7 linked regions of the Homo sapiens genome follow. The protein of the gene in region 5 interacts with the protein of the main gene of each other region in a pairwise test. Each region holds a gene or a part of one and is shown on either strand. Other genes may lie near its edges. The genes, in order: MRM1, CISD2, REEP2, SH3GLB1, TTPA, LEUTX and NOTCH2NLC.

The links.
Region 1: the proteins of TTPA (region 5) and MRM1 interact in binary tests that used the Homo sapiens proteins (3 or more experiments, as listed by UniProt).
Region 2: the proteins of TTPA (region 5) and CISD2 interact in binary tests that used the Homo sapiens proteins (3 or more experiments, as listed by UniProt).
Region 3: the proteins of TTPA (region 5) and REEP2 interact in binary tests that used the Homo sapiens proteins (3 or more experiments, as listed by UniProt).
Region 4: the proteins of TTPA (region 5) and SH3GLB1 interact in binary tests that used the Homo sapiens proteins (3 or more experiments, as listed by UniProt).
Region 6: the proteins of TTPA (region 5) and LEUTX interact in binary tests that used the Homo sapiens proteins (3 or more experiments, as listed by UniProt).
Region 7: the proteins of TTPA (region 5) and NOTCH2NLC interact in binary tests that used the Homo sapiens proteins (3 or more experiments, as listed by UniProt).

The regions. Positions count from the first base shown.
Region 1 is NC_000017.11:36,606,666-36,610,307, reverse strand, and holds the end of MRM1 (rRNA methyltransferase 1, mitochondrial precursor), read right to left. Parts: intron 2,639-3,642; coding exon 2,506-2,638; intron 2,410-2,505; coding exon 2,290-2,409; intron 2,066-2,289; coding exon 1,893-2,065; 3' UTR 1,344-1,892; downstream 1-1,343. UniProt on the Homo sapiens protein: S-adenosyl-L-methionine-dependent 2'-O-ribose methyltransferase that catalyzes the formation of 2'-O-methylguanosine at position 1145 (Gm1145) in the 16S mitochondrial large subunit ribosomal RNA (mtLSU rRNA), a universally conserved modification in the peptidyl transferase domain of the mtLSU rRNA.
Region 2 is NC_000004.12:102,881,638-102,886,338, reverse strand, and holds part of CISD2 (CDGSH iron-sulfur domain-containing protein 2), read right to left. Parts: intron 1,291-4,701; exon of another isoform or gene 1,124-1,290; coding exon 909-1,123; intron 1-908. UniProt on the Homo sapiens protein: Regulator of autophagy that contributes to antagonize BECN1-mediated cellular autophagy at the endoplasmic reticulum.
Region 3 is NC_000005.10:138,441,341-138,445,168, reverse strand, and holds part of REEP2 (receptor expression-enhancing protein 2), read right to left. Parts: intron 3,785-3,828; coding exon 3,708-3,784; intron 755-3,707; coding exon 634-754; intron 416-633; coding exon 302-415; intron 1-301. UniProt on the Homo sapiens protein: Required for endoplasmic reticulum (ER) network formation, shaping and remodeling. May enhance the cell surface expression of odorant receptors.
Region 4 is NC_000001.11:86,745,581-86,749,836, reverse strand, and holds the end of SH3GLB1 (endophilin-B1), read right to left. Parts: 3' UTR 1,653-4,256; downstream 1-1,652. UniProt on the Homo sapiens protein: May be required for normal outer mitochondrial membrane dynamics. Required for coatomer-mediated retrograde transport in certain cells. May recruit other proteins to membranes with high curvature. May promote membrane fusion.
Region 5 is NC_000008.11:63,060,997-63,065,697, forward strand, and holds part of TTPA (alpha-tocopherol transfer protein), read right to left. Parts: intron 3,321-4,701; coding exon 3,210-3,320; intron 1,181-3,209; coding exon of another isoform or gene 995-1,180; exon of another isoform or gene 430-994; coding exon 256-429; 3' UTR 1-255.
Region 6 is NC_000019.10:39,776,678-39,782,026, forward strand, and holds the start of LEUTX (paired-like homeodomain transcription factor LEUTX), read left to right. Parts: upstream 1-2,176; 5' UTR 2,177-2,243; coding exon 2,244-2,250; intron 2,251-5,349.
Region 7 is NC_000001.11:149,392,981-149,397,681, reverse strand, and holds part of NOTCH2NLC (notch homolog 2 N-terminal-like protein C), read right to left. Parts: intron 1-4,701. UniProt on the Homo sapiens protein: Human-specific protein that promotes neural progenitor proliferation and evolutionary expansion of the brain neocortex by regulating the Notch signaling pathway.

The sequences.
Region 1 (3,642 bases), on a different chromosome or scaffold from region 5:
TGAGCCGAGATCGCGCCACTGCACTCCAGCCTGGGCAACAGAGCGAGACTCCGTCTCAAAAAAAAAAAAAGATCTTAGGCCCTTTTTAGGCCAGGTTCACACCTGTAATGCCAGCACTTTGGGAGGCTGAGGAGGGCAGATCACCTGAGGCCAGGAGTTTGAGACCAGCTTGGCCAACACAGTGAAACCCCATCTCTACCAAAAAAAAAATATAAAAATTAGCTGCGCGTGGTGCACGCCTGTAGTCCCAGCCACTTGGAAGGCTGAGGCAGGAGAATCACTTGAACCTGGGAGGCAGAGGATGCAGTGAGCCAAGATCGCGCCACTGCACTCCAGCCTGAGCGACAGAGTGAGACCCTGTCTCAAAAAAAAAGGAGCATAGGCCCTTTTTAAACAACTTTAAGTGTTGCTCTAAATTGGCATTGCCATTATTAGAATTGAGACAAATCCAATGCAGATGGATTCCAGAGAAAAGTGGAGTACTATTTATTGAGCACCTAATACATGTGAGTTCCTATTGCCCTCCATATTCTCCCAACAATCCAGGAAGGTAGGATTATTCCCCTTTCGCCCAGGAGGGCACCGAGGCCCAGGTGGGTAAGGAGCGCCCCCCCAAGGTCACATAGCAGTCAGGATTGCAAGTTCGGGGTTGCTATCCTCCAAAGCCATGCTCCAGGAGGGGAGATTTTTGTCTCTTAGAAGCCATCTGGCAACGTCTGGAGACATTTCTGGTTTCATAATGAGAGGTCATGCTACAGGCATCTAGTGCGTATAGGTCGGGGATTCTGCTAAACATCCTACAGTGCACAGGATGGCTCTCACAACAAAAAATTATCTGGCCCAAAATGTCAAGGGTGTGGAATTTGAGTCCACCTGCCCTAGTGGTGATTCTCAGCCTTGGCTGCACATTAGACCAATGGTGGCGCTTTCGAAAGCCGGATGCCAGGTGGCGCCACACCCATCATGTCAGACTCTCTGGTGTCAGTGTTGGGTTTTTTAAAGCATGCCAGGTGGTTCCAATGTGCCACCAGGACAGAAACACTTCTATGCTCCTCACACTGCTGGCTCCTGCTGCTTTCCTGGGACCCGAGGGGAGGAGTGCCAAATCTGTCTCGGTTGTACAATCAACGGCAAGCCTGCTCCCAGTTCCTCCCCTTGAAGGGAACTGACTCAGTCACCCGTGGGGGGCCCCCGTGGGGTGGGAGGTGTTTGCTAATTTCCCGTCGCCTCTCATGGGGCTGCAGCCAGGAGTCTCCCCGCAAGGAGGCTGTGGAAGCTGCCTGAAGACTGGACCGAAGAGCGAGGCTGCCACCTAACGGAGGAATTGGCCAGAATCTCCCACGTGCTGAGTGATGTTTTATTTGAGCCTCACAACAACCCTGTGAGGTAGGTGCGGAGTCCCGCGGCACAGAAAGATGAGGCCTGCGCTCAAGGCCCCAGGGCGGGGCCGTGTGTGGGCCTGAGGTGCGCACTGTCTACTCCACATCAGGGCCCCGCCCTCCACCCCCCACATTCTCATACACACATTTGCCACAGGCAATGACTGGTTCAAGAGGAACGGGTCCCCTGGGCTGGGCTGCCTGCCTCTCTGCAGATGTCTAAACTTTCCCTCAACTTCCAGGCAGGGCCTGGGAACAGATTCCCTCCATGCTAGGCCATCATGGCTTCCCATGGAAATTAACAAATCACCATGTCCTACTACAGGTCCAACATCACAACAGGAAACAGCTTCCTCTGGTGTCCACCGCAGTCCCCTTCCCCCCCCCCCAGACTGTGGTCAATAAACATGGGCCTGGTGCACACTCAGGCAGAGGCTCCCCGCACACTGGAGCCGGCGGAGGCAGGTGCGGCCGTCCCTGACTCCAGCACATGAACACTGTGGACAGTCCACGTCAGCCCTCATTTTGCCTCTCTTTCTCTGGGCCTGAAGACAGCCCTGGGTGCTGAGCCATGCTGAGCCCTTCAGACCTGGCTGAGGGTTCTTGGGGGTCTTGGAGAAGCTGCCTTCTCTCCCCCTCTGTGGGGAAACCCTTCCTCTGGCTGCAAATGGAGTGAAGAAGAATTCCTGCACAGACACAAGGACAAGGGAAGAGAGGACGGAGGAGAAGGATGATGTTTAGAGACCTAGACATTCAGGCAGCCCCTCATCTCATCAACGGGATGTAATTTCCCCATTTTGTACATAAAGCAACTGAGGCACACAAACAGCCAGCAAATGGGATTAGAGGGCATCAAATCCCACCTGCGTGATTAGAGGGATAGAGGAAAGGGAAAGGGGAGTAGACTCACCTGCAGCCACAGAGACGTTCAAGGACTCAAGTCCAGGAGGCAGCTGGCGCCGGGGCAGGATGGTGAGGAGAAGCTGGCAGGAGGCCTGCACCTCCTGGGATAGACCTGAGCCCTCATTCCCTGCAGGGCGTGGGGCTGAGGGTTAGGGTTGCCCAGCTGGACACCCAGTTGCTCGGGAAATGTAATCTGGGCACAAACGCAGGGACATCCACCTACCCAGCACAAGGAGAGTAGGCCGTTCCCAGAGGAACTCCAAGCAACTCATGATGGGGATCTCGGAGGACTGGGGATCCTCTGTGCTTGGGCAGCCCACCGTGCCGGCCACGAGCCAGCCCTGCTGGGCTTTGGTCTGAAAGGGGGAAGAAGATATGTTCTAATTCTTTTTTTATTTTAATTTTGAGATAGGGTCTTACTCTCGCTCAGGCTGGAGTGCAGTGGCACGATCACAGCTCACCGCAGCCTCAACCGCCTGGGTTCTGGTGATCCTCCCACCTCAGCCTCCCAAGTAGCTGGGACTACAGGCACTCGCCACCCCACCCGGCTAGTTTTTGCATTTTTTTTTTTGAGATGAGGTTTTGCCATGTTGCCCTGGTTGGTCTGGAACTCCTGGCTTCAAGCGATCCTCCCACCTTGGCCTCCCAGAGTGCTAGGATTACAAGCGTCAGCCACCATGCCTGCCTCTCCTATTCTAATTCATCAAATCTTCATCAGAGGCTGTATGCAGTGGCTCAAGCCTGTAATTCCAGCACTTTGGGAGGCTGAAGCAGGCAGATTACCTGAGGTCAGGAGTTCAAAACTAGCCTGGCCCAGGCACGGTGGCTCACGCCTGTAATCCCCAGCACTTTGGGAGGCCAAGGCAGGGGGATCACCTGAGGTTGGGAGTTCGAGACCAGTCTGAACAACATGGAGAAACCCCGTCTCTACTAAAAATACAAAATTAGCCGGGCATGGTGGTGCATGCCTGTAATCCCAGCTACTCAGGAGGCTGAGGCAGGAGAATCGCTTGAACTCGGGAGGCAGAGGCTGCAGTCAACCGAGATTGCGCCATTGTACTCCAGCCTGGGCAGCAAGAGTGAAACTCCATCTCAAATTAAAAAAAAAAACAAAAAACCAGGCGCAGTAGCTCACGCCTGTAATCCCAGCACTTTGGGAGGCCGAGGCGGGCGGATCACCTGAGGTCAGGAGTTTGAGACCACCCTGGCTAACATGGTGAAACTCCGTCTCTACTAAAAACACACAAAAAATTAGCTGGGTGTGGTGGCACATGCCTGTAGTCCCAGCTATTTGGGAGTCTGAGGGAGGAGAATCGCTTGAACCCGGGAGGCGGAGGTTGCAGTGAGCTGAGAGCACACC
Region 2 (4,701 bases), on a different chromosome or scaffold from region 5:
TTTTTGTATTTTTTAGTAGAGACGGGGTTTCACCATGTTGGTCAGGCTGTTCTTGAACCCCTGACCTGGTGATCCACCTGCCTCGGCCTCCCAAAGTGCTGGGATTACAGGCGTGAGCCACCGCGCCTGGCCTGCGTGTATTCGTTTTTTAAACAAAATTGGGATCACACTGTAATATGCTTTCTTACTCATATCAGGATCTCATGTCATTATATATCCTTTAAAAACATGATCATTCCCTTTTTATCAGATATTTAGTTTATAAAAATTTTGCTATTACAAAGGATGCTGTGATGAGCAATACTGTATTAAAAACCTCAAATAATCTATGATCAAGTACAAGAAACAGATTTTGTCAACTACTTATAGTACTTATCACTCCAAACTCCTTCCCACATTAAAAATCATCTATAATTGAGGCTATCATTTACTACCTCATATTATTAAAGCAGTTTACATATATCATCTCACTTCTCAAAGATATGTAATGTGGATGTATCAGGTTAAAACAAACCCTGAAGATTAGAGATTAAAAATTAAGTAACTTGTCCAACCAAACTCATACTGTGACAAGTATATTTGACCACTATTTACTATGACACCAAAGCTTTTTTCCATTAAACCTTAGGTCCTCTCTCAAAGAATGTGTATTTTAAAATACATGTTACTCTACATAAATGCCAAACATTGCGAAGGCATTAGATTTTTATTCTTCTTTGCTGCTCCAACTTTTCTAATGTAGGTAGTATCTATCATGACATGAAAACTTCAATTTAGGAATATGGTCTTTCAATACCAAATATTACAGAAAATTCTCTCATCTTAAAGAACTTCAAAACTGGGGATTTAAGAGGCGAAACAATCCTAGCACTGCAAAATTTTAGTGTACACGTAAACAGACATCTTACCGTTTTAGAACGCCAACACCTACAATAAGCTGCTTTAGTAAGACACAAATCTTCAATGTTTATTTCATTCACTACTTTCGGATTTTCCTTTTGTATTTTAAGATTAATCAAGCTATCCTTCTGTTGTTTCTTCTTCGGGAGGAATGGACGAACTGCAAGGTAGCCAAGAAGTGCGAGTACACCAAGGAAAGGCAATAACCGAAGCCATTCTGAAACTAAACATGTAGATGTGTCAGAATCTGCAGTGCTCTTGGAAAAGAATTCAAAATAGCATGTCTAGTTTCATCCTTGAGCTTATTCTTTGTTACTTTTTACATTAATTCCTTTTTAATGGATCCATAAAACTGTGAATAAATAACACAATAAAGCCAGCTCTACCAAAGACCACCTTACTTTATTTATAATTTGAGACCAGTGAAACTAGAAACCTAACTTTTCAGAAATAGGTTCCATTTCAAATATCCTATCTCATTGTCTACATCAAGTCTATTTGTGTTTGTCTATTTTTATTTTAGGAGTTATGATCACTATAACTATAAACAAAATTCAATGTATATTTTATAAGTTAAGAAAACATTTTATCTCCTTAATACTATGTCAAAATCATACAACAGAATATCTGCAGAATTTTTACCACTGATTCATAATATCAGAGAGAACATGTCCTCTGATGCTTTAAGGTACATTTTTGGTAAATGTTGCTAAAGAACACTGAAATTTTGTGTAAAAGCTACTATTTTAAAGAACAAATTGAAACCTTCTATGTTGAATGTTCTCATTTTAAGATATATCTAATTCCATAAACTTCATTTAAAGCCTTTTGGAGTACCTAGCCTGTCTTAAGGGGACAGGGAATATAAGTGATACAAATGAAACAGTCCCTATGCATGTGGACACAAAAATACCAGGAAACCAAGATAAACATTTCAACATACATTTATCAAATGTCTGCTAGCACCCTGCCTCTGCTGGGCTCTTTTCTGTTCTTATAGAATTACCAGTTAACTTCCTTCACTGAATGCCGAATCTGATACCTTGCTAGGCACTATGTGGAAATAGCTTAGTTGAGAAAAGAGAAAAACAGAAAATAATATGCTAACTCATGCTAATAAACATTAAAGATAAATGAACAGGTTATGCTAAGAGTATAAGGGCACTAGCTCATTTAACACTATGTTAGCTTAAACAACTATATGTGGTAGGTATCATTATTATCCCCATTTTACATGTGAGAAAACTGTAGCCTAAGCAGGTTTAGTCCAGGACACCCTAAATCCAAAGCCTGTTGTCAGTTATCATGAATCAAACCCAATAGATCTAAAATTAAAATCTGTGCCTATCTTGGTAAAACTACTCTCAGGAGATAATAGTACTATTTAACTATTGAAAGAAAGACAATATGAACTCTTCCAAAATGGAATTATTTTTGATATAACATCATGCCAAAGAAATCTAAATGAAAAAACCTATTTATCTACCATTTTCATAGATAGCACCTATAAGAGTGGCTGGCAAAAAAGACACAATAAATGGTAGCTTTTATTCAGAGATTATAGAGATTGGTGAGGAAGTACTAGCAACTCCTTTGAAAAAAATATTTTGCCAAATAACTTGACAATGCTATATGGGCAAAAATCTTCAGGAATATAATCTTGTAGTTACCAGAATAAAACTCTGTAAAAGTATGAACTTTGTCTGCCATGCTGGCTGTTACATTCTCATAACCAAAGTGGAGACACTCCAAATAGGTTCTTTGAGTGAATTAAAGCTCTGGAGATAACACAGAACTGTTTTTGCGGGGAGAAGGAGGCCTAGGTATAAGATCTGTGCTATTCAATATGGGCACCACTAGCCATACTGTTTAGATTTGTACCCAACAGACTTGTAGAAACTGTCTTGAAATAACAGTTTATTACTTATAGTTCCCAAGAGGAGAGGATACACTATGCAATGCAGGGCCACATGAGAGGTACTAGGGTTGATCAGGAGGAAGAAAGAGGAAAGGGAAAAAGCATGGGCACAGGCCTTTACTGTGGTTTCCATGGAAAAGGCAAGGCAGGAAACTGTTCAGGACTGGCTAGCTTGAATAATTTCAGTGGGTTCTGGGCAAAAGTAGTGGTCCCTAGTCGTCTCCTACCTGTCCCTGGGGTGACTTAGGGCAGGAGAAATATTGACTGGAGAAATACTGACTTCATGTGTAAGGGTTAGATAAAGGAGGTGGTTGGGGGCATGGGCTTTGGATTGGTTGGTTTGCATATGAAAGGCATGCTCACAGGCAAGTTATTTAGTATCTCTAGGAATTAAATTGTCTCCACAGCCAACAAGGCTCCTAAGATATTAAAGCATAATAAAATACAGAAAATTGAAAACACGGTTAATATACACATGTGGGCGTGGTGGCTCATGCCTATAATCCCAACACTTTGGGAGGCTGAGGAGGGCAGATCACGAGGTTAGGAGTTCAAGACCAGCCTGGCCAACATGGCGAAACCCCGTCTCTAATAAAAATACAAAAAATTATCCAGGCGTGGTGGCAGGCGCCTGTAATTCCAGCTACCTGGGAGGCTGAGGCAGGAGAATCGCTTGAATTCAGGAGGCAGGGGTTGCAGTGAGCCGAGATCATGCCATTGCACTCCAGCCTGGGTGACAAGAGCAAGACTCTGTCTCAAAAACAAAACAAAACAAAACAAACACATGTGGCTATTCACATGTAAATAAATTAAAATTAAGTAAAATGTAAAATGCTGTTTCTAAGACACACTGGTAACCTTTCAGAGGCTCAATAGCTAGCTACATGTGACTACTGACTACCATATTGAACAGTACAGAGAACATTTCCATTACCACAAAGTTTTACTGGACAATGCTACTATAGATCATTGGCTCTATAAGGTGCCATCTCCAAAGAATGGCAAGGCTACCTTTCCAGCTTCAACTTCCACAAACATGGTCTCTTCATGTACCTGAGGCCAGCGAAAGCTACTGTCTAGTAAGCAGCCTTTTTGAGTTCTTTGCATATGGAGTTCCTTCTGTTTTATCTGACTAATTATCTTAGCTTGCAATTGGCCCCAGCATCCAGTATGTAACTCGAAATAGCAGTCATTAAATGTTTGTTCAATGTAGAATAACATTAAGTATTATTGTACATATTACAATATTTTAGAAGTCATAAGAGCTTAAATTTATCAAAAAGCGAGTGAATGGGAACGCAAAGATGAAAATCTTATTTATTTATTTTTGAGACAGGGTTTCACTTCCATTGCCCAGGCTGGAGTGCAGTGGTGTGCTCTTGGTCACTACCACCTCCACCTCCCGGGCACAAGCTATCCTCCTGCCTCAGCCTCCCAAGTAACTAAAACTGCAGGAGCACACCACAACGTCTGGCTAATTTTTGTATTTTTAGTAGAGATGGGGTTTCACCATGTTGGCCAGGCTGGTCTCAAACTCCTGACCTCAAGTGATCCGCCTGCCTCAGCCCCACGAAGTCCTGGGATTACAGGTGTGAGCCACCATGCCTGGTTGAAAACCTTAATGTTAGACTCTTAAATATAGCATTTCCTATCTTAACCCACAAACCTCAAGAACAAATGGTATTACTACTGTTTTAAAATCCACTTCAGAAAATATTCTTTTGAACACTTAATTCCTTGGTAAAACACTATGCTTAAAAATACAGTGATGAGAGGTACTATTACCTCCTACAACAAAGTAATAACTTACCAAAGTCTTAACATAATCTACTTTTTAAAGATAACCAACTACAATTTAACTACTGAAAAACTTTATACATGAA
Region 3 (3,828 bases), on a different chromosome or scaffold from region 5:
TCACCATGGTGCTGGCAGCAGCCCCAGGCTCGGTGCCCTCCCCACACTGTCCTCACCCAGTCCCACACAGACAGAGCTGAGGGCTGGGGCAGGGCCACACTTTGCCTCTGGGGACAGATGGGGAAATGGCCGGACAATCAAAGTGACTCGGCCAGATAGCAGTAGAGCCTGGACTGGAGCCTCCAGCTGCATGAGCCCAGAGTCTCTACAGCCCCGAGTACAGGGTGGATGCAAAGGGGCCTGGCCAGGGCCCTTTGTACAAGGTAGGGGCCCTGGGAGTCTGAGCCTGCCCCCATCTCACCTTGGCGGCAGCTGTGACTGCAGCATTGGCGGCAAGGTTCAGGCCCCTCTTGCCCACCCTCATCATGGTCTCATAGCTCTTGTCTCGGGCCTGCGTGATGTACTCGTCGATCTCCTATGGGATTGGAGGGGAAGGGAGAAGAGGAGAGGTCCTGCCCTACCCTTGTTCACCCCTGGACAGAGGCCCCTGCCTGCTCCGGGAGGCCACGGCAGCCCTGCCAAGTCACTTTGGGCTCTGGGCCCCACAGGGAGGGCCAGTCTGTATGAGGCTGCAGGCTCTGGACTGCCTTGGCTGGGGGCAGGCTGGGAGGTGAGCTGAGAGTGGGGGCAAACCTTCTCCTTGTTGGACAGCGTTGGGTGCACGAACTTGCGGTAGAGCACGCTGGAGCCCTTGGTGTAAGGGGACAGCAGCCATATCACGAAGGCGATCTTCAGTTCAAAGTAGAAGGGGAACCTGTTGGGACAGGGGCAAGCGCAGAGTACAGGGCAGGGAGTTGGGAGGTGCCCTGTGTCCAGCAGCACCGGCCCCATGTGTGACCCTGCACAGCCCCTCACTCTTAGTGCACTGGGGTCCCCATGGGGCTCATGGGACTGCTCCTTTCTAATCTGAAAGGGTCTGGAGGGCTCAGCTGAAGCTCCAAACAGGAAGGTAAGCAGTGACACTAGAAGGAATTTCCCCCAGCAGCGACTCTCCTGGCCTCATCCTCTCCCCAAGCCCCAGCCCTCTCACTCCTAGAGAAAACCCCCCTTCCTCTGCCCTAGGGTCAACACCAAGGGAAACTCTTGACTGTGCAGGCCTACACCTGGGTCTTCACTCCTTCCCTTTCTGCCCTCCCTATCATCGAGAGGCCTGGGACTTCTCTAGCTTGCTCTGGACCCTCCTGCCCCACCGTGACACGACCCTCACTTCTCCAGGATTGCCCTTCAGTCCCCATAGTGCCTTCTCCTCTGGTCACAAACTCCTTCAGGTCACCTATGTCCTCACAAAGTCTTCATCAAAGCTCTCTCTTTTGCTGTGTCAAGACACATGTATAGGCCTGGCACAGTGGCCTGTAATCTCCCAGCACTTTGGGAGCCAAGGTGGGAGGATCATCTGAGCCCAGGAGTTCAAGACCAGCCTGACAACACAGCAAAACCCCATCTCTACAAAAAATAAAAAATAAGCCAGGTGTGGTGGCGTGTGCCTGTGGTCCCAGCTACTCAGGAGGTTGAGGTGGGAGGATCACTTGAGCCCAGGAGGTAGAGGCTGCAGTGAGCCGAGATCACACCACTGCACTCCAACCTGAATGACAGAGTGAGATTCTATCTCAGAAAAAGAAAAAAAAGGCATCTATATTTACTACCCTCAGTTTTGTTTTTCACCTCACCACCCTTGCCCTACTCTCATCTTTTTTTTTTTTTTTTTTTTGAGACAGAGTCTCGTTCTTGTTGCCCAGGCCGGAGTGCAATGGCACAATCTTGGCTCACTGCAACCTCTGCCTCCTGGGTTCAAGCAATTCTTCTGCCTCAGCCTCCTGAGTAGTTGGGATTACAGGCATGTGCCACCACGCCCGGCTAATTTTGTATTTTTAGTAGATAAGGGGTTTCACCATGTTGGTCAGGCTGGTCTCGAACTCCTGACCTCAGGTGATCTGCCCCCCCTTGGCCTCCCAAAGTGCTGTGATTATGGGCATGAGCCACCGCACCTGGCCAATTTTTTTTTTAATAGGCAGGTCTTGCTATGTTGCCCAGGCTGATCTCAAACTCCTAGGCTCAAGTGATCCTCCTGCCTTGGCTTCCCAAAGTGCCAGGATTACAAGCAGGAGCCACCATGCCCGGCCTTTACCCTCAATTTTTTTTTTTTTGAGACTGAGTCTTGCTCTGTTGCCAGGCTGGAGTGCAGTGGCACGATCTCGGCTCACGGCAACCTCCGCCTCCTGGGTTCAAGCGATTCTCCTGTCTCAGCCTCCCAAGTAGCTGGGATTACAAGTAGGTGCCATAATACCTAGCTATTTTTTTTTTTTTTTTTGAGACAGAATCTCACCCTGTTGCCCAGACTGGAGTGCAGTGGCTCGATCTCGACTCACTGCAAGCTCCGCCTCCTGGGTTCACACCGTTCTCCTGCCTCAGCCTCCAGAGTAGCTGGGACTACAGACACCCGCCACCACGCCCGGCTAATTTTTTGTGTTTTGTTTTTTAGTAGAGATGGGGTTTCACCGTATTGGACAGGATGCTCTCCATCTCCTGACTTCATGATCCGCCCACCTCGGCCTCCCAAAGTGCTGGGATTACAGGTGTGAGCCACTGCGCCCTGCCATGCCTAGCTAATTTTTGTATTTTTAGTAGAGACGGGGTTTCACCGTGTTGGCCAGGATGGTCTCGATCTCCTGACCTCGTGATCTGCCTGCCTTGGCCTCCCAAAGTGCTGGGATTACAGGCGTGAGCCACCACACCCGGCCTTTACCCTCAATTTTTAACCCATCTCTCCATCTCTTTCCTCTTCTAAAACTATTTTTCTCAAATGCAAGGGTCTTATCTATAAATGTAATGATCTCTTGTCCTCTCCCCCTTGGTAAAATTCTCTTCTTGAGTTCCGATGAACTGTGTTATTAGTCCCCTCTTCCAAGAGGTATCTGATCATTCAGTAAACATTTTTGAGTTCCTGCTGTGAATATACAGATGATTAAGACATATTCCCTGTCCTCAAAGTGCTCATACATACGTAGTCTAGTACAGCCTGGAAAATGCCTTGGAAATGCAAGTATCCAGCATTTATAGGAGTGAATCATATGCCTATTTTACAAATAAGGAAACTGAGGCCTCGAGAGCTGTGACCTGCCTAAGGTCGCAGGCAGCATGGCAGAAGCGGGTTTCCTGAATTCCACTGAGGGGCTCTGGCTGCCGCCAGAAAGAAACATGGGGATTATGTTTGTTCTTACTCCTTGTTTGTTTGTTTTTTTTTTGAGACGGAGTCTCACTCTGTTGCCCAGGCTGGAGTGCAATGGCGCGATCTCGGCTCACTGCAACCTCTACCTCCTGGGTTCAAGCAATTCTCTTGCCTCAGCCTCCCTAGTAGCTGGGATTACAGGGGCGCCACCATGCCCAGCTATTTTTTTTTTGTATTTTTAGTGGAGACGGGGTTTCACCATGTTGGCCAGGCTGGTCTCAAACTCCTGACCTCAAATGATCCACCCACTTAGACCTCCCAAAGTGCTGGGATTACAGGTGTGAGCCCCCTCGCCTGGCACTACTATGTCTGTTCTTCTGCAGGTCAAGTTAGGCATGAGAGGGGAGATATCAAGGACCCCATGAAATTGTCAGGAATGGGAGGAGCTTCACCCCCAGGCCCAGTCTTTTGTTTGGCTGGCTGGGTAGAGAAAGGCAGAGGCCCTGGGCCCTGAGATACAGGAGGGGACGCTGGACCTCACCAGGAGAGCACTATATCCGTGAGCGTCTCGGCCGTGGTGAAGAAGGCAAAGACGATCCAGTACATCATCCATTTCACCTGAGGGACAGAGGGAAGCGCTGGCTGGGGCACGGGGCTGAGGG
Region 4 (4,256 bases), on a different chromosome or scaffold from region 5:
TATCAAAATGCCTGGTTGTTGGGAACTGCCTACTACAGCTCAAGCTTCAGAGAACTTTACTAGAACATGAGACTGAGCAGAAACATGTGCCCTAAACCCTGGTGCATCAGACTCTCAGAAAAGTTGCTTATAATGGTAGTCCATCTCACCTCCAATTAGCTATTCGTCTTGTTCTCGTAAGCCTGAAGCTTCCTGTATAGCCTTCCTTACTTACAACCCCCTTAAGTCCTCTTACTACTCATTCTTTATTGGTTGAGCAGTTTGAGTTATAATCAACAGATGTTAATTTAAATTTATTATGGTTCATCCAAATATTAAAATGGGTTGGTCTGTGGGGTTTTGCTATGATGACTGCAGCTCAACCCTGGGACATCTATCTTTTTGAATACTGCTGAGCAACTTTTATAATTCAGATACTTCTTTAAATACATTTCTCTCACTATGGATGAATCAATTCTGTGATCTCCAGTCCTGGAGATGCTACTGAGACTTAGCTAATTAACAATACTGTTACTGAGCTGAGTCACCTGTCCTATGTCAGGCTCTCACATAGAGGTACAGCCCCCCGAAGCACTGAGATCAGCTGTGGGCCAAGGGTGGGGGAGTATCAGAAGGGGCAGTTTGGCAAGGTTTACCACTTAAAAAGACTGTGATTACCACTTTCGTACACTGTTGTTAAGCATGGTAATGTTGAAATCTTCCACTGTACATCTTGTCTGAGAGTTTTATCTGGTTACATTACTTGAATACCTGACTGGAAAAAATGAGCCAGATTCCATAAGAATGAGGATTGCGTAGGTATAAGGATATACAAGACAATGCTCATTCACTGTGACAGCTTTCAAGGAAGATTTTCTTTGGCAATGGCAGTGATATTTACTCCAGAGGTTGACAATAGCAAATGCTCTAACATGCTCATCTATAAATCCTAGTAAGCCATAATATTATCCACTAGGTGCCAGCCACTCTTCATAATATGGTTAATCCTTTCAATGCTACAAGGTAGGTTTATAGTATTCTAATTCTAGAGATGAGTAAGCAGGCTCAAAGTGGGAGAGGTTTAATGACTGACAAAAGGCCAGGAAAACAAGTGGGAGAGCCACTGTTCTGCCTACCTTCCAAAATCCTACTTTCCCCACTACGGCTACATTCCCTAAATCCATCAACAGTACACCTGCATCAAAGATACCTCAAGATTCAAGTCTACTTAAGATTGTTCTTCTACTGTCTTTGCAAATGTCAGAAAGGTAATAATGCTTCCAGGAGACTGAATAAAAGCAAGAGGCAACTAGTACTACAAACATTTCCAAAGTAATACAAAATATATGATAAAGAGGGAAGAACAGTAAATGAATGTCATAATTTAAGAAACATTTAAGACTGGACTTTAATTTTGCAGGATCTTTTTATCTCCCTCTTACCCTTTATTTTTAAACCAAAGACTCCAAGAACATTCTAGTTGGAAGCCCTCCAAAAGAAACAGTATTCTCTCATATACTGCTGATAAAAGTATAAATTGCTTAGAGTTTTCTAGGGGGCAACATGGCAGTAACAAAAGCTTTTAAAAACTGGCATACCCTCTTCACTAGCAATTCCACTTCAAAGCATTTATCGTGAGAAAATATGAACACATACGAGATTTAGCAACACAATGTTCTTTAAAGCACTTTATTAATGAAAGTTGGAAACCTAAAAATTGAACAGTAGTTTAATAAAATGTGGCACATATGATGGAATATCATGCAGCCATTAAGAGATGTAGAAATATACTTGACACAGCAAGACAGTCATGGTATTGTTGAGTGAAAAAAAGTTACAAAACAGTATGTACACTTTGATCCCATTAAAAATATCTATAAATGCACAGAAAAGTCTGGAAGGCCATATACTTAAATAACAGTGGTTCTCCCTGGATGATGGAATTATCAGTGATTTTTCTTTCTCACTGAATCTTTTTTCTTTTTGCCAACAGGGCTATGACTTGTATTATAAAAAAGCATTAACAATTCTTTAAAAAGTGTCCTTTGAAGTAAGAATGAGAGCAGAACTTAGCAATCTAAGAGGCACAGGGATGTACACATGGTTTCTGATACTGTTTTAACGGTTTGTCAAGGTGTTTTGATGTTAGTCACCAATTAAAAGGCACTGTGTTGAGTGAAAACGTGGATGGTGGTAGTGCTTACTTTAGACTAAGCAATCCATTCCTAGAAACCTTCCACAGCAAACAAGTACTGGCATTCTAAGCAATACTTCCCACTATGATATCCTTATACCTTCCTACCCACTTGTAATACAGCCCAGAAGTTTCCCCTACATGGACAGGGCACTGTTGTTGGTTAAGGGTTACAGAAGGCAGAGAGGATTTTTCAAGTGATGTCAGAGAATAGGCCTGAAGGTGAAATGAATGTTCTCTTAGTTCTATTGCAGTGGTTCTCAAGCTTAGAGTGCAACAGTATTACTCAAACAGCTTTTACAACAGATTGCTGGGCTCCACTCTCAGAGTTTGATTCAGTAGGTCTCTGAAAAGGCTTATAAATTTGCATTTTTCTTTCATTCAACAAAAATTTATTGAGTTCATACTATGTCCTAGATCTTGTGCTAAGAGTTGGGAATGTAACTGCCATCAAAAGAATTATAGTTTTTATCTCAGGGAGCCTACATTCTAGAGTGACAGATATACACTAAACAAATAAATTATAAAAATAACTATAATTACAATGACTACTGCTAGAACACAATTAAGATTAGAAGACTCAGTTTTTGTCTTAAAATATTTAAAAAGCTGTCACATGGAAGACTGATTCCATGAGCCCTTGAAAACAAAAAATAAGTAAAAATGAAGGTAGAAAGTTCTTGAAAATAGTAATCAGCATTTTAAACAAGTCTCCAGGAGATGCCAATATTGCCGGTCTGGGGTCTCACACTTTGCCAATCACTGCTCTACTGAGTAGACATTTTTTCTTTCCTTGAGACAAGAGTCTTATTCTATCACCCAGGTTGGAGTGCAGTGGTGCAATCTTGGCTCACTGTAGCCTCTGCCTCTGGGGTTCAAGTGATTCTCCTGCCTCAGCCTCCCGAGTAGCTGGAATTACAGGTGCACGCCACCATGCCCGGCTAATTTTTATATTTTCAGTAGAGACAGGGTTTCCCCATGTTGGCCAGGCTGGTCTCGAACTCCTGACCTCAGATGATCCACCCGCCTCAGCCTCCAAAGTGCTGGGATTACAGGCATGAGCCACGGCACCCAGCCCTGAGTAGACTTTCTAATGAGCGTAATATGGGAGAAAGGGCAGGGGTGGTTGTGGAACTCTCTCTCCAGCGTTTGAGACTCACATGAGGTAAAAGCCACTTCATCTTATCTGGAGGTCTTGAGGCAAAGTTGGCTATAGGCTAAACTATGAAGCTATCTCTCCATTACAGCACCTCACTGAAGCTTAAAGTGCTAAATAGTAGGGCAATATTTCAGAATTTCAGGTGTTTGGGAGATAGGGAAGGAATTTTTCTGGAATTCTGTCAGCATGGAGGTGAGTGGGGCCTCTATGGGTAAACAAGTCTGTGGGTTTTTGCCTTGCCCTCCATTGTCTTCTCCACTCCACAGTTTATCCCAGAAATGTTTCCCCAACACTAGCTTCCCAGTCTCACTTTGTTCTTTGTTCAGGGGGAGGATAACAGGAGACTATGAAGATGACTCTACCCCACTGGTGATCCTGGCCTCAGGATTTATTTCCCATGTGACGCAGAGTGAGGAGGCACATTCCCATTTTTGAGACCTCATTTCTTGCAACATCAATTTTTCTGATTAGCACCATAAAAAGTTTTAACACCATGACCGTTTAGGTTAGATTACTTTGAGGAAAAAGGTAGACACAATCCAATCACTTTTTTTTTCATTTATAGAAGAGCCTACAATTATTTTAGTTTTTCATTCATATGTGCATCCTTCACATGTCACTATACTTTCAGATTAAGCTCAGTGGCACAGAGCTTATTTAAACAATTCTGAACTGCACCATGAATTAATAGGCTTCCCAAGCTTTTTCTTCCACGCCCAAGAAACTTCAGGCCTTTACCTGAGTAAAAACTAAACTTGACTTTAAAATAAGCCAAAACCAAAATAAAACCCAAACAACCAAACCCCATTAAAATAAAAAGCAATAAACCTAAGAACAAGCATATATATTGTGGTGGTTCTGTGGTAGACAAACGTACCAGAAGCCTTTGAAGCTTAACATTATTGAAGGTTTCTGTACATTACT
Region 5 (4,701 bases):
CAAGTACAAAATCGCCGATTTTTATGCTCTTAAAATGTACTGACATTTAATTACTTCAAAAGTAGAGAAAAAAGCATTTAAAAAGTAAAAAATCTTTCCAAACACCTGTGTTGCTCATGTCAGAAGATTTCTACATTTTTAAAGTTCAGGCAAGCATTAGTTTAAAAGATTTGCTCCTTTTCTTTCATTCATTTAACCAGGTTGGATATCACTCATGTATTTTTAGTTAGGAAGCCATTCACATGACATAACTTCTCATTGAATGCTCTCAGAAATGCTGCTGAGATAATCTTCAGACTTCATTATAAAATTTGTCCATTCCTGACAAATGTCCTCCATGGAGAATTCTTCACCACCATATTCCAGAGGAAGAATGTCTGGGAAATGCTGAAGCAAGCTTTGTTTGTAGTTGTTCCCATGCATGTGAATCTGAAATAGCCAAAACACTTTAGAAGGAAACCGCATTAGATGCATTTCCAGTGGAAAATCAACCTCATAAAACAAGGTATTCTAATAACTTCTAAAATGGAGTGTATAAATAGATACCACATCCTTTATTCCTCTGGTTATGAATCTAATAATTTTACTTATGTTTAGGTTGTATTACTGTGGATCTAATAACCTTACTGTTTCTTGGATTTGCATTCTTATAACTGCATAAAATTTATAAAAAGTTATTTTCCTCTTTCATAAGTAAATTTTTAAAGATTAAATAAAGTTATTTTATAAATTCTATTCCCTTATGTGCAAGTGATTCTTACCAAACTAATACCTTGGGACTATTCTATACACGATAAAAATGTACTAGCTGGTACTAATTCATATTAAGTAGAAGCATATATCTGAGCACACAATTAAATCTATGAGAAACAATTTATATGGTACAGTCGATGGATACTGTTAGTTAGTATAAAGTTAAGAGACAGCCGGGTGCAGTGGCTCATGCCTGTAATCCCAACACTTTGAGAGGCCAAGGCAGGTGGATTACTTGAGCTCAGGAGTTCAACACCAGCCTGGGCAACATGGCTGGTACAAAAAAAATACAAAAATTAGCTGGGCGTGGTGGTGCAGGACTGTAGTCCCAGATACTTGGTGGGCTGAGGCAGGAGGATTGCTTGAGCCCAGGAGGTGGAGGTTGCAGTGAGCCAAGATCGTGCCACTGCACAAAGTGAGGCCCTGTCTAAAAAAAAAAAAAGAATTAAAAGAATTAAAAAGTCAAATTTTAAAAAAGTATTAAAAAACAATTATGATAGTTGAGAACCTTAACTTTTCAAATATTTTAAACTATAAAATTGATCATAGAATGCCCTGAAGTTAAGAGAAAGCCGTAGAAACTTGAACCAAAAGCATACCTGCTAAAATAAATAAATAACCTTTTTTCACTTTCTAGGGCAAAATGTTCCTCTATGTATTCAACAATCATTTAATAAGCATCTATTATGTGCTGGGATATGAGGTTTGATGGATGAAATGAGTTTCCTATACTCACTTAGGAAACTCACAAAGCCAATCTTTAATTTTTTCTGAAATATGTAAAATATTATCAGGTAATTGAGAAGAAATTCTATCTCCTCAGGAAGGGGCAAAATAAGAAAATGTATGGGGCATTGCCAAAAAGTTAAAAAGGAAAAAAGTGGCTGGATCAGAGTTTTTTTCTCCCTATTTTGGCAAGTCTGTTTCCCGTCAACTAACTTTCACTGACATCCTTCCCCTAACTTCTCAACTTTTTACTTTTGCTTTTTTCTCCATATTCTCCTATTTCTTAGGTTCAGTTTATTCTTGTTTTTGTTTTTATCTAAAATATTACTCAAAATAGAAATAGTTATTTTTAGATCTCTAAGAATTAAACAGAGGGAAGCCAGATATTATCAAGTTACACTGAAGAGAGAAAAAAATGAACAAACAAAATTGATTTGTATAAAAATACTAGAATGAAAAGTAGCTGAAAGTGGCCATTTTTGCTAAAGCAGGCAATTTAAGGGTGGTTCTTGAAGACAAACAGAAGCATCCACTGCATAACCTCTAAAGAAGCTCTAGGGTCATAACTTTCTGACCAGGTATAAGATGTTATATTTTCTTAATATGAAAGAACATCGTTTCTAAAATTCCAAATGTGCTATTACAGTTTATATTATCACTGCTGACATTTCAGTGATTTTTTAGATTTAAACTGTTAAAACCTTTACAAATTGTTTTGTGTTCAAGGCATTAGATGATGCCAATGTTTGTCTAAATAGATGCTCTAAAAATTCTTCTTTACAGATTAGTTTAGAATGGTTGCCATTCTTGAGAACGCAGACTCTATTTTCAACCTTTCAAAAAGTCTAAGATATATGAGATGCTTTTTCTGAGATAAGGCTCCATAGGCTAGGTAAAGAAGAAAAAATCCAGTATCTTTGCTCTAACTAGCATGACATTAAGTCATATACCTCAGTTACCGTGGTTCTCAGTTACACTGAAACCGTTAAGTAGGCTTCACTGTTTAAGAAAAATGTTTATTTTTATTTGCATTAATAATAAATTCATATGGTTACAAATCAAAACAAGATAAAAGATACACAGTGAGAGATCTTGCTCCCAAACCTATTCTCATCTACTGTAGTTCACACCTCTTCTCTTGTTCCCTATAGATATCCACTTATATTATTTTTTGTATATCCTTTTAATGTAAATTTATGAAATATATTCTTATTTCTCCCCTTTGTATACAAAAGGTAGCATGCCATAAACACTATTCCACATTTTGTTTATTTCAGTTTACAAAACATCCTGCAATCTCGTTGTTTTCTGTTGTGTAGATGTTTATTTAACCAATGCCCTAATGGTGAACACTTCCTGGTTTTCAGTCTTCTGCTGCTGTGACTCCTCTAGCATATGTAATTTTGTTTAGGTATAGGTAATTCAAGACAGTGATTTTGATGTCTTTGCCACACTGCCCTCTATAGGAATATACCATTAAGCATTCCAACCAGCAGTGTATGAAAAGCCCAGTTACCCCACAGTCTTACAACCAATATACTTGATTTTTATAAATTAAAAGTAAATTTTAATTTACTTTTTTTTAGTTGGCTTGTTAGATAAATATTCAAAATATTGGGCTAATGATATAGATGGGCAGGTACGAGGAAAGATGATAAAGCAATCCTTAAATTAAAAAGGGTTGGAATGTTTGGTGTAGAGGAACACAGACTTGAATATATTTTACTCACCCGTTCCTTAATTTTTTCAGTCAGGAATGGTTTGATCATGGAAAAGACAGCATGGAAAATTACTGGTTCATTTATCAAATGGATGCCACGAACTTTCAATGGAAATGAATCCTTTTGAAAATAAAAAAATCTTAATAACAAAACATAAATATTACAATCTGATACCTAATGTCAAGTTTCTTCTTTGAACACTTGCTAAGCTTATGGAAATATCTAAAGTGTGTGATTTTATCTTCAAAATTATTTATTCCATCAGCACAAAAGCCTGGCTTACAGTTCACTGTCACTAGATTAAGTAAAGATCTCTAAAAAGGTTTCTCCTTATAGATTTGGCAAAGTATTTTACAAAATATCTGCACACTTTCACCAGAAAATTCCTTTCCCATCACATATAGATGTTCTTTTAACGAACCAATGAGTCATTTGGAAATTTATATTTAACTTTTTCCCAAAAAATGTTTATTTTGAGAAAAAAAATCACAAATATTGAAAGACTAGCACAATAAACACACACTTTTAAACTTTGACATTGGTATATGTCTTTAGCATCAAAGTAATATAGGCTTATTTAGAAAGTTTAAGAAGTTAAGAGTTGAAGGAAAAAGATGGTTTTCCTACCTACAAGTTGTATTATTAATACAGAGACCTTTCATTCCAAGGTTCTTTTATGTGAAGTTCTTTTATTTTTTCCATGCATCACTTTCAGAGATGTATTATTAATTTGGGGATTGTCCTTCCAAATCCCTTCTATGCATAATTTTCTTTTAAACATAATTGCTAATATACTTTCTAAATAATTTTCATCCCGTTGTGTTCCACTGATACAATACAGCTTTTGCAAATATCATGTTTTATTATTGTTGCAAGAATCCATCAAATGAATGTACATTTTTTAAGTAACCATGTTTCTATTTTCTGGACTAATAAACTATTTATTTTACTTCTTTACTGAAATTGATGCTGCAGTAACTGTCTTTGTGTATAGGAGAAGTGGTGGTTATAAGCACGACTTTTACATTCAGGTGACCTGGGCTGGAATTCTCACTTCACTACTGGCAAACTGTGTGTGCCTGGGCATCGCTATGTCACTTCTCGGATATAGTTTATTAATTGTAAAGTGGGAAAATACAATAGTCATATGTCATAGGCTCAGTGTGGACATTAAAAGATAATGCATTTGAAACACTTAGCAAAGTACCTGGCACATAGTAAGCTATTATTATTATACGCAATCTTTAATATATTAAAGATTATTCCTTAGCTAGTTTCCCAGAAATAGAATTACTGAGTCAAAGATGATGACCACTTTAAAAACCTTTTGGAAAAAAAAGATATCAATATACACCTACCAAGACTTATGTGACATTTTATTGTTCCATTGATATATTATATTTTTTAATCAATTTTTAATTTAGGAAAAAAAGTTAATGACAAAAAGATAAAGTCACCACATATTAAGATGCATAAATCCTCTCGTTACTAATTTGAACAT
Region 6 (5,349 bases), on a different chromosome or scaffold from region 5:
GAGGCGATTTTTTTCTTTCATTTCTCAAGTAGCTTGTGGTAAGAAAAGTGAGCTGAGACTGGGTGCAGTTGCTCATTCCTGTAGTCCCAGCTGCTTGGGAGGCTGAGGCGGGAGGATCCCTTGAGCCTGGGAGGCGGAGGTTGCACTGAGCCGAGATCACACCACTGCCTGGGTGATAGAGCGAGACCCCATCTCAAAAAAAGAAAGAAAAAAGGGAAAGAAAGTGAACTGAGTGTTCTGTGTCTCCCAAGGCCCCTTGAATGGCTTTGTCCTTCACTTGGAATAAAATTCAAACTTCTTCACCTTGCCCCGACCTTGGTTGGCCTTTCCAGTTTGAGCTTTTCCCGATATTCCTCTCCCACAACACACCTCAACTACAGTGGCCTCTTATCTGCACCTCAGACATGAAAAGGTTTTTCATGTCTCTGGGCCTTTGCACTTGATGTTCCCTTTGCTTAGAACACTCTTCCCTCTCCTTCAGTGAAAATGATACTTCCTCAGAGACATCTTACCTTACCTTAAAACTACTGCACATCCTCTGAATCAGTGCTGTTGGTGGCATTCATAACACCAGTAGTATCATAATCAGAACTGCGTATTGTCTTGTTTCCTTTTTTATTTCCTGCTTCCCTCCCTAGAATGCCAGCACTTGGGAAGGCGGCAGTGAGTTCTATTTTTGTAAATCCCAATTTCCTAGTCACTGGAACAAATCTTAGCAGAGCAGGCATTCAAATAATTAAGCAAACAAATGAAGAAGTGTCAGGGGTGTTTTAACGTTAAGTTCTGCAAAATTCCCTGCTATTGGGGAGGTCATACCCTTTGAATATATCACTCTCTTTCCATCCTCATTAGTGTCATAGGGCAACTCCAGGGACTGATTCTAACATTTAAACGGAAAATTTGAGGCCCACTTTATCCTTTCCGATAGGATTTGGGAGTTTCTACCCTTGACTGTGTTAGAAGTGTTCCTGAATTTTATTCCTGTAAAAGACATAGATGGGGCCAGGTGCAATGGCTCACTAGCACTTTGGCAGGCCAAGGCTGGACGATCTCTTGAGCCCAGGAGTTGAAGGCTGCAGTGAGCTATGATGGCACCACTGCACTCTAGTCTGGGCAACAGAGTGAGACCCTAAAACAAAACGTAAAAAGATACAGATGGGTCCTTCAATCATTTGGCCTTCAGGCTACCTGCAATGTTCCCAGAGACAGAGTTCTTTCGCTAGTCCAAGACTTTTCCAAACCAACCTGGTGGGGGTGTGGAGGTTGCGGGAGAGGACAGAGTTGAGGGGTAGTATAAGATGGGCCAAGACCAGAGTCCCATCTCTGCTTCAGAAAGCTTGGGTCCACATTGAGTGTGGGGAGGCCATATCTCATGGATAGAGACTAGATCTGTCTAGTGAATTACACTCACCCCACAAATAAGACCCATCATGGAGAAGAACGTTAGGGGGAGGAATAAATAAATGAGTTAATAAGGTGCCTGAAAGGTGGAGTAAATGAGTAACAGAGGGACAGAGAGAGGGATGCTCAGAGGAAAGAAAGAAGCATGATTCTTTTAATGCAATTTATATTTTAAGTTTCCTTGCTGAAAACTCGTTATGGGCTCCCCAGCTGCCCCCAAATCCATACTCAAGAGAAGATACAAGATCCCCTATGGTTTAGGCTCTGCCAAGTTCTTCACTGTCATCCATTGCTGTCTCAACTGGAAGAGGTTGAACCGAGATGGGCGGGTGAAGGGCTTAACTCCCATCATCCCAAACTCCTAGCAGGATGCCTCCTGCTGCACTCCGGGTCTCACTGGAAGCCGTCCACGCACAGGGCACCTCCTTCACCTTCCAGTTTGAATCATCTTACCAACTTATTTTTCTCTCAGCGCCTTGTTTATTTACTCATTGATCCCAAGTGACATTTTTGAACATTTTATCCATTTTCAGTTCGCTCCACTTTCTTTTGTTTTCTTCCACTCTCTGGAGTCAAGGATCAGTCTTTTTTTTTTTTTTTTTTTTTAAACATAGTTTTATTCCCAGTGCCCTACACAGCATCAGGCATATAATAGGTTCTAAATAAACAGATATTGAATGGATTATTGGAGGGCGTGGTATTAGGGTAGGACAGGGTGGGGACATGATTACATTAAAATTCTGCTTAAATAAGCGGGTCTTTTAGCCCAGCAGTCACATAGACTCAGCTCAGGAGCTCTGCAGCACACAGCTGATCGAACCCACTCATTTCTAGAGGACACCATGTTTGGTAAGTTGGGCGAAGGCAAGAGGCTGGGGTTTCAGTGATTGGGTTGCAGACAAATCAAGTGAGAGGTGTGGGACCTTGTGGTGGCTTCTTAGAAACCACTGGGTAAATTTAGAAACCACTGGGTTATACCAACAAGGATTGTTTGAAAAACACTTTGCAAGGGATTCTAGTAACTTAGGAATTTGTTTCTCCACATCTCTTTTTTAAAGAGATGGGGTCTTGGTATGTTGCCCAGGCTGGCCTCGAGCTCCTAGGCCCTAGTGATCCTCCCACCTCACCCTCAGGAGTAGCTGGGACTTATAAGTGTGTGCCACCATGTCCCGCTAATTTTTAAATTTTTTGTAGAGACAGGATCTCACTCTGTTGCCTAAGGTCGTCTTGAACTCACATCCTTTTTAATGCCTGGTAACTTTCATACTTTTTAAATGTCAGTCCATTGATGGGTATAAAATAGTATGTGATCTTTAATTCCCATTTCTTTACTAACCCGTGTGATTGAATCTGTTCACTCTATTTTAAAGGCCATTCTGTTTTTCCCCTATGCTAATTTTTATATTTATATCATTTCCCAGTTTTTAGTATGTTTTTTTTCTTGAGGCTTAGTAGAATATTTTTGTTGTCTTCTAGACACTAATAATTTATCTCTTATATGTGTTGCAAATATATTCTCCCAGCCTGGCTTGTGTTTTTCAATTTACTTATGAGTACCGTTGTACAAATATTCTAAAAGTTGTCATTGTGATATTTATCAACATTTTCCTTTTATAATTGTACTTGTAAAACGTAGTTTAGAAGTATATTACTGGCTGGGCATGGTGGCTCACACCTGTAATTCCAACACTTTCAGATGCCAAGGCAGGCGGATCTCTTGAGGCCAGGAGTTCAAGACCAGCCTGGACAACATGGCAAAACCCTGTCACTACTAAAAATACAAAAATTAGCCAGGCATGGTGGCATGTGCCTGTGGTTCCAGCTACTTGGGAGGCTGAGACACAAGAATTGCTTGAACCTGGGAGGCAGAGGTTGCAGCAATCTGAGATTGCACCGCTGTACTCCAGCTTGGGCAACAGAGCAAGACTCTGTCTCAAAAACAAAAAAAGTGTATTTCTTGGCTGGGGACATAAATGTAATTTTAGTTACATTTTATTTTAACTTCTTAAAATGATTTGATTCTAATAGAAAAATTATGCATCAACAAGCTCACTTATCAAAACTTGTACCTGGCTCTTCTAATACATTTTCCTATTGTTTAATACTAAACTTACAAAAATACTAATTAGTCGATTTTACATATTGACCTCTCAGCTTGGTAGATGATTTTAAACTCAAAGCCACATCCTTCCTCGATTTTACCTCCTATAACTTATCAATGTGCAGTGTTGCTTTTCTAAAGACCAGTAGAATTCTAATTACCATTCCTTTGATGGAAATTCTACTTCCCTTTAGAAGCTTCTGGAAATTTCTATATATTCCTGGTATTCTGATATTTTTGCAACAACGATCCTTTTGTTCATTTATTGTGCTCATCGTGGAATGTCTTCATTCTGGAAACCCCTGTGCCTCATCTCTCAAATCTTGAATTTTTTTTAATAAATACTTTCATGATACTCTCTGAAACATTTTTTAGTCAGAGATATTTTTAGTCACATAAATATTGCTAGTGCTGGACATCCCTGAGCAGAGATCTTATTTTTTTCCGACCTTTTCACTCTTTTTGTCCACTTTTGTATACTTTTTCTACTTCCTGGAATAGCTTTGTCTTCCAACTCTTCTATTATTGCCTAAGGGTTTCTTTTTAGCTACTGATTTCAAAGAACATTTGTCTTATCAGATTTTCCTTTCTTTTCAAGACTTTCTTGATGTATGAGTGCAATATCTTTTATCCGAGCATATTAATTTTAACATTTATAGATTTTCTTTTTTTTTGTAATTTTTTTCTAATTGTTTTATATTTTTAGTAGAGATGGGGTTTCACCATGTTGGCCAGGCTGGTTTTGAACTCCTGATCTCAAGTGATTCACCCTCCCTGGCCTCCCAAAGTGCTAGTATTACAGGCATGAGCCACCGTGCCCAGCCTTATTTCTTTTCTTAAGAAAAAATGTGGTTATTTGCTGCTTTCCTCCTCTTCTTTCTTTTTCTCTTCCACTTTCCCTTTCTTTTTTCTCTCTTTCTCTCTGTCTCTCCCTCTCTCCCTTTCTTGCTGTCCCCTTCCTGTTTGAGAATTTTTCTTCAATGTCCTGTAAATTTTTGTTCTCCCTTTGTGTCTAAACAAATGCTGAGACACTAAGAGAAACCCATGTGCCCGATCACTTGTCTTCACTGTGCGATAATTGGGCAGCATGTTGGCTTCTGTTTTTCCATGTATTTGCATGAGGAATAAGAGCATCCTGAAAATAGAAACTTTCCTATAAAATAGATGACCATGAGAATCAGGTTTTACTAGATGATGAGGTCTTATTTATATTCTAAACCATAGTAAAAACTCCCATTATGCACTAATACAGTTTGCATATTTGTCCCCTCCAAATCTCATGTTGAAATGTGATCCCCAGTGTTGGAGGTGGGCCTGGTGGAAGGGGTTTGGATCATGAGAGCAGATCCCTCTGAATGGCTTAGTGCCATCCTCATGGTAATGAGTGGGTTCTCTATCTCTAAGTTCACCTGAGATCTGGTTGTTTAAAAGAGTCTGGGACCTTCCCCTGCTGTCTCTTGCTCCCACTCTCACCATGTAACACCTTGGCTCCCCTTCGCCTTCTGTCATGAGTGGAAGCTTCCTAAGGCCCTCACCAGAAGCAGATGCCAGCACTATGCTTTGTGTATAGCCTGCAGAGCTGTGAACCAATTAATTCCTCTTTTCTAATTTACCCAGTTTTAGGTAATTCTTTATAAATGCAAAATGGACTAACACATGCACCAAGCCTGTAATTAACAGACTTGCTTCTTTGGTTACTCACATCTTCCCTAAAGGAGTGAGCTTTCTGGGACCATGTTATTGTTAAAGATACGGAGGCAAACAGTATAAGTGTACTGATGCTGCCAAAGTCACAGAGCTAGTAAATGAGAGAATCGACATTCATTCTTAGGTCACTAAGCTTCATA
Region 7 (4,701 bases), on a different chromosome or scaffold from region 5:
CATCCCCCTTTCTTGGCTTTACTCTCCTTTTTAAGACCACAATGTATGTTCTGCCATACAGATAATATTCTCCTCAAAAAAGAGAGACAGGAGAAAAAACAGATCTACGGCAAACCTCCTACCACTACCAGTGATGCAGTTTGTCCCGTCTCAAGCCTATGAGCATATCCTTTCAGATCTGAAGCCACTTCCTTCTTCCTATCAAGGACAGTATTATCAAGTGTCTTTGTGAGAGGAGCAATCCTGTGCCCCTTCTTGCAGATTGTTTTGTTCTGCTCAAGAAGCCCTAGATTCCTCCTTTATTTTCCTTTCCTTATTTCATTTGCTGCAGCAGCCCAGAAACCCCAAAAGCAGGACCACCAGAAATGAGTGACCTTTATATCTCTCCACACTAACACATCTGAGGGAAACTGCCGACACCAAATATGTGTTCATGAGCTAATGAAGCAGAAATCCTCAAAGGAAGCACCATTTGCAACGGCTGAGGACAGAATTCTTTAGTGGACACCAAAAAGGCTGTGGAACTCCTATGCATTCTAACATCTCAGGTAACATTCTAATGGAGGAATAAGGAGGCTTACAACAAAGTCATACAACACAAACAGAAGTCCGAAAATGCTGGATTTCGCAAATTTCTTTTAAGACAAAACAAACAACTTTACTAACCTTATACCATAGCAGCTTTCTTCTCTGTACTAAGTGAGGCCAGCAAGTAGGAGGCATTTCCAAGGGGGAAAAATGACCACAGGATCTAGCCAAAGCAACCTGTCTCTAATACTCTCAAAAAACAAACAAACAAAAACAAACACTTTGATTTCCCAGATTCACTCTGCAGTGATTCTAAAACTTTCCTAATGTAAGAATCACCTGGCTATTTCTTGAACACACAAATTCCCAGATGACATTCCAGATGCACTGAATCAGAATCTCCATGAGAACACCTGAGCTATTCTTATCATAAGAGAGGTTAGGGAAACACTGCTTGATAAATGTGATTCTCCCACCAGTGCCCACCTGTGCAGGGAGGTATGAAACAAGTAGGGCTAAGATGCTTTACCTGAGCAATCACCCCAGACATGCTCCTCACTGGGTTTGACTCCTTTTATGGAGAGCTGGGTGTCAGCCCAGTAAAGTCTACAGACAAGCATCTCTTTGGGTCCCTATCACCTGCACAGGTCTCAGGACTCTGAGACAAATTTCTGAGTAGATGTCAATGAGGACAAGTCATGAGGAGATGGATTACAGCTGAATATAAGAAGATCTTTCTAAGAATTAGAGCTGGCCAAAGATGGAATAAACTGCTGTGGAGAGCTGTCTACCACAAGAGATGTTCAAGAAGAGAGAAAATATGGTACCTCTTGACTAGAATGTTGTAAACATCAGATCCAGCATGGGATGGACAGAAAGACTAGATGAATTTTAAAGTTCCCGCCAATGCATAAGTCAACAAAGAGGAAAATTTCAGCCACTCCTTAATTAATTAAAAGAGATAGCAAAAAAAGTCTGTGGGTGGGGTCAGCTTTCAACTGATCCTATCTCTTCAAAGGAAAAAAGAACATAGAAACACACTCCAACTCACCATCAGCCTCTCCTATAGAATGTTCTAAAGGTGGGAAAGCAGGAGTCATAGATGCTGTGACTAAGACCTGCCGCTCAGTTGACTCTGAATTTCGGGCACATGCCAGACAAGTTCTGTAGTACAGAGAAGAAATGTGTGTAGCACAGACCTGGCCCTCAAGGATCAAAATCATGTGGCAGAGACAACTCAACACCATGTGATTCTCTCAAATATTTATTCATCATATTTCACCTTTAGTTTTTGTCAGCAGGGTGTTCAGGGGACTCTCTTGGTTCAAAAAAAAAAAAGCAAATATACTTTACTAAATGTACATATTCTCTCAATCCAGTACAAGTTTGCAATATCCAACTCAATGAAAAAAATCTCAAAAAAAATTATCAAAATAAATATAAACTTAGTTAACTCTAATTTTAAAAATAGTATTCCAAAAATGACTAGTCCCCAAAATGATGAAATTACAATAAGGTGTGGCTATTCTGGACAAAATAACAGAAATTGCTGGCCTAGTAATACAGTAATACAGGAAGCAGTGGAAGCAAACTTGAGTGAGAGGCAGGGGGTGGGTGGCAGTGCCTTTGAAGTGAGATTCCAAAGTCAAAGTGACCTTTATAAATTGCAGAAGTGATCAGAAAAAGAAAGAAAGAAACCCCACACACAAAGAAATTCAAAATTACAAGTTTAAATGAAACATCTGGGGAAGGGAAAAATTTGGTTTTTCCCCAAATGTAAGGTAAGCATGACTCCTGCAAATACTATTTTTAAAATGTCTAGGAGTACCACAGTTGTCCAAAATAAGAAAGTGGCTAAAAATAATTGTTCGACTGAACAAGTATTTATTGTGTGCCTATTAGATACCAAGGCATCATGCCAGGTACAGGGGTAGGGTATGGGCATTAGAATAAACACATAAATGAAAATACACGATTCCTTCCTCATGTACGCATTAACAATAAGCACTTGAGGATGTTATAAGAGTTTTTGTGCACATAAGCGCATTTGTACATGAGATGGAAGCAATGTGGACAGTGAATGAGGCACTGGACACCAGAAGAAAGGAATTCTAGTCTCAACTCTAATTGGCTCTGTGACCATGAACAATGAACATCAGAAAATGGAGGACCAAAACAGTGGCTCTCCTACAAGGTCACCAAACCAATTAATAACAGACCTGGAGAAGAATTCTGGTCTTCTGGCTCCTAGTTCAGTGATCTGTCCAAAATACTACACATATGGTAGGCTGACAAAGAAAGAAAAGAAGACCTTTTGGTTTCAAGTCATTTGCAGAGAAAGGGTGGGAAACAAAAACAGGAAAATCAGGAAAGGGTGGAAGGAAAATTAATAGTTCAAATTTAGGCATTCGAACTGAGACATCAAGAAAGGAAGCATGTAACTATGGACTGTGAACACAATATAAAGAAAATGATGTAAAATTTCTTATATCCTTATTCAAATCACGCCTTGCAGTTTTTTACTCTAAAATCATTGCAGACGTATATAGATAAAGGGTCAAAAAACAACATGTATGAATGACATTTAAGGAAAACGAGATAACAGAAGAAAAGGGAAAAGGAGAGGTGGAGAATTTATTATATCATCTAAATATATGAAGCCCTTCTAAAGGGTCAATGCAGACATACTGCACCCAGATAAACAGAAGAAATGACATTATATTCTATATCTCTTACGTCAGCAATTTTAAAATTCTTGAGTCAGAAGTGTTAAACACTGGAATGACTAAGGTTACATTTGTTATGGAAATTTCTTAAATTTAGAAAGACCTCATACACACACCTGAAGGTAAAAAAAAATGTACTTAATCAGTGGGTTGCAACCAAGTTACTTGTCAGAATCACCTGTAAACCTTGAAAAAATATGGATTCTCAAACTTACCTTATCAGAATCCCTGGGTGCTGAGTCCAAGATCCACCCCAACAGATTTTGATGTAGCCAGGACACAGAGTTTTTTTCTACCATAATGGGAGAGGTAGGGAGGAGGATCACTAGGAATGGCAACACAGAGTGGGAACTAGATCAATGCAAATTTTGTGGGCAAAATAGAATTTCTGTGGGTGTGATATTTTTAAAATGTATTGTAAGGCTGCTCTGAACCATCCAAGCATATCCCACTGAATTTAAACATTCTCTAAAGGTCCTGAAGTCAGCAACTACAATCCAGGTGAACCAAAAGTTGCTTCTCTATGTCATAGAAGCCTACAGGAGAGGCAGTAGGGTGGGAATGGAGCAGAGAGATCCCAAGAAGTTATGGGTAAATATTTTTTAAATCTAAACATTCAGAAAAATAAGAGAGACTAGGAATCACTCTCCTCCTCCTCTCCACCACACCAAAAAAAAAAGGAATAATAAGAAAGTGAAAGGAAAAATAGTTTTAGGTTAAATTTCATCACCATCTGAAAGAAAATTACTCCGATTTTGTTTAAGAGAAGAATTCAGCTGAGAAATTATCTAGCAGGCAGCAAAATCAGGGAGTCACTTCCCATTGCAAAGCAAAAGAAAACAAGGAGCAAGAGGATGGTCCTGGATAGCTGTTTAGACAATCAGACATACTGCTAACATCTCCTTGCCTTAGAAACTCCGTGATGTTTAAATTAACAATTGGCCACAAGCCAAACACAGGAGCACTCAAAAGTTTAGAAGGGTGTGCTGTAATTGGTACCTTAGCAAAACACAATAATAAATTAAGAGGATTCAAGAAGCCTTCACTGTAGACTCTAAGAAGATTTAAGATTTGTACCAAGAAACAGGCTTCTAAATCTCTTCTACTGCATTAGTTTAGCATCTAAAGAACACCTGTCTAAAAATCAAAATATCTAAATCCTATCCTTTGAGTCAACTTGACTAACACTCAACTTGACTACCTAAAAGCTAGCTAATAATCGCAGCACCTCAGCAGAGCAGAGGTGGAGGGCATAGTTTTATGCACTGAGATCCTATAATAAAAGAAGCCCTATGTGTCAGAGTAATCCCATTTCTGACATATTATTTAATACTTTTTTTTTTTTTTTTTTTTTTTTTGAGACGGAGTCTCGCTCTGTCGCCCAGGCTGGAGTGCAGTGGCGGGATCTCGGCTCACTGCAAGCTCCGCCTCCCGGGTTCACGCCATT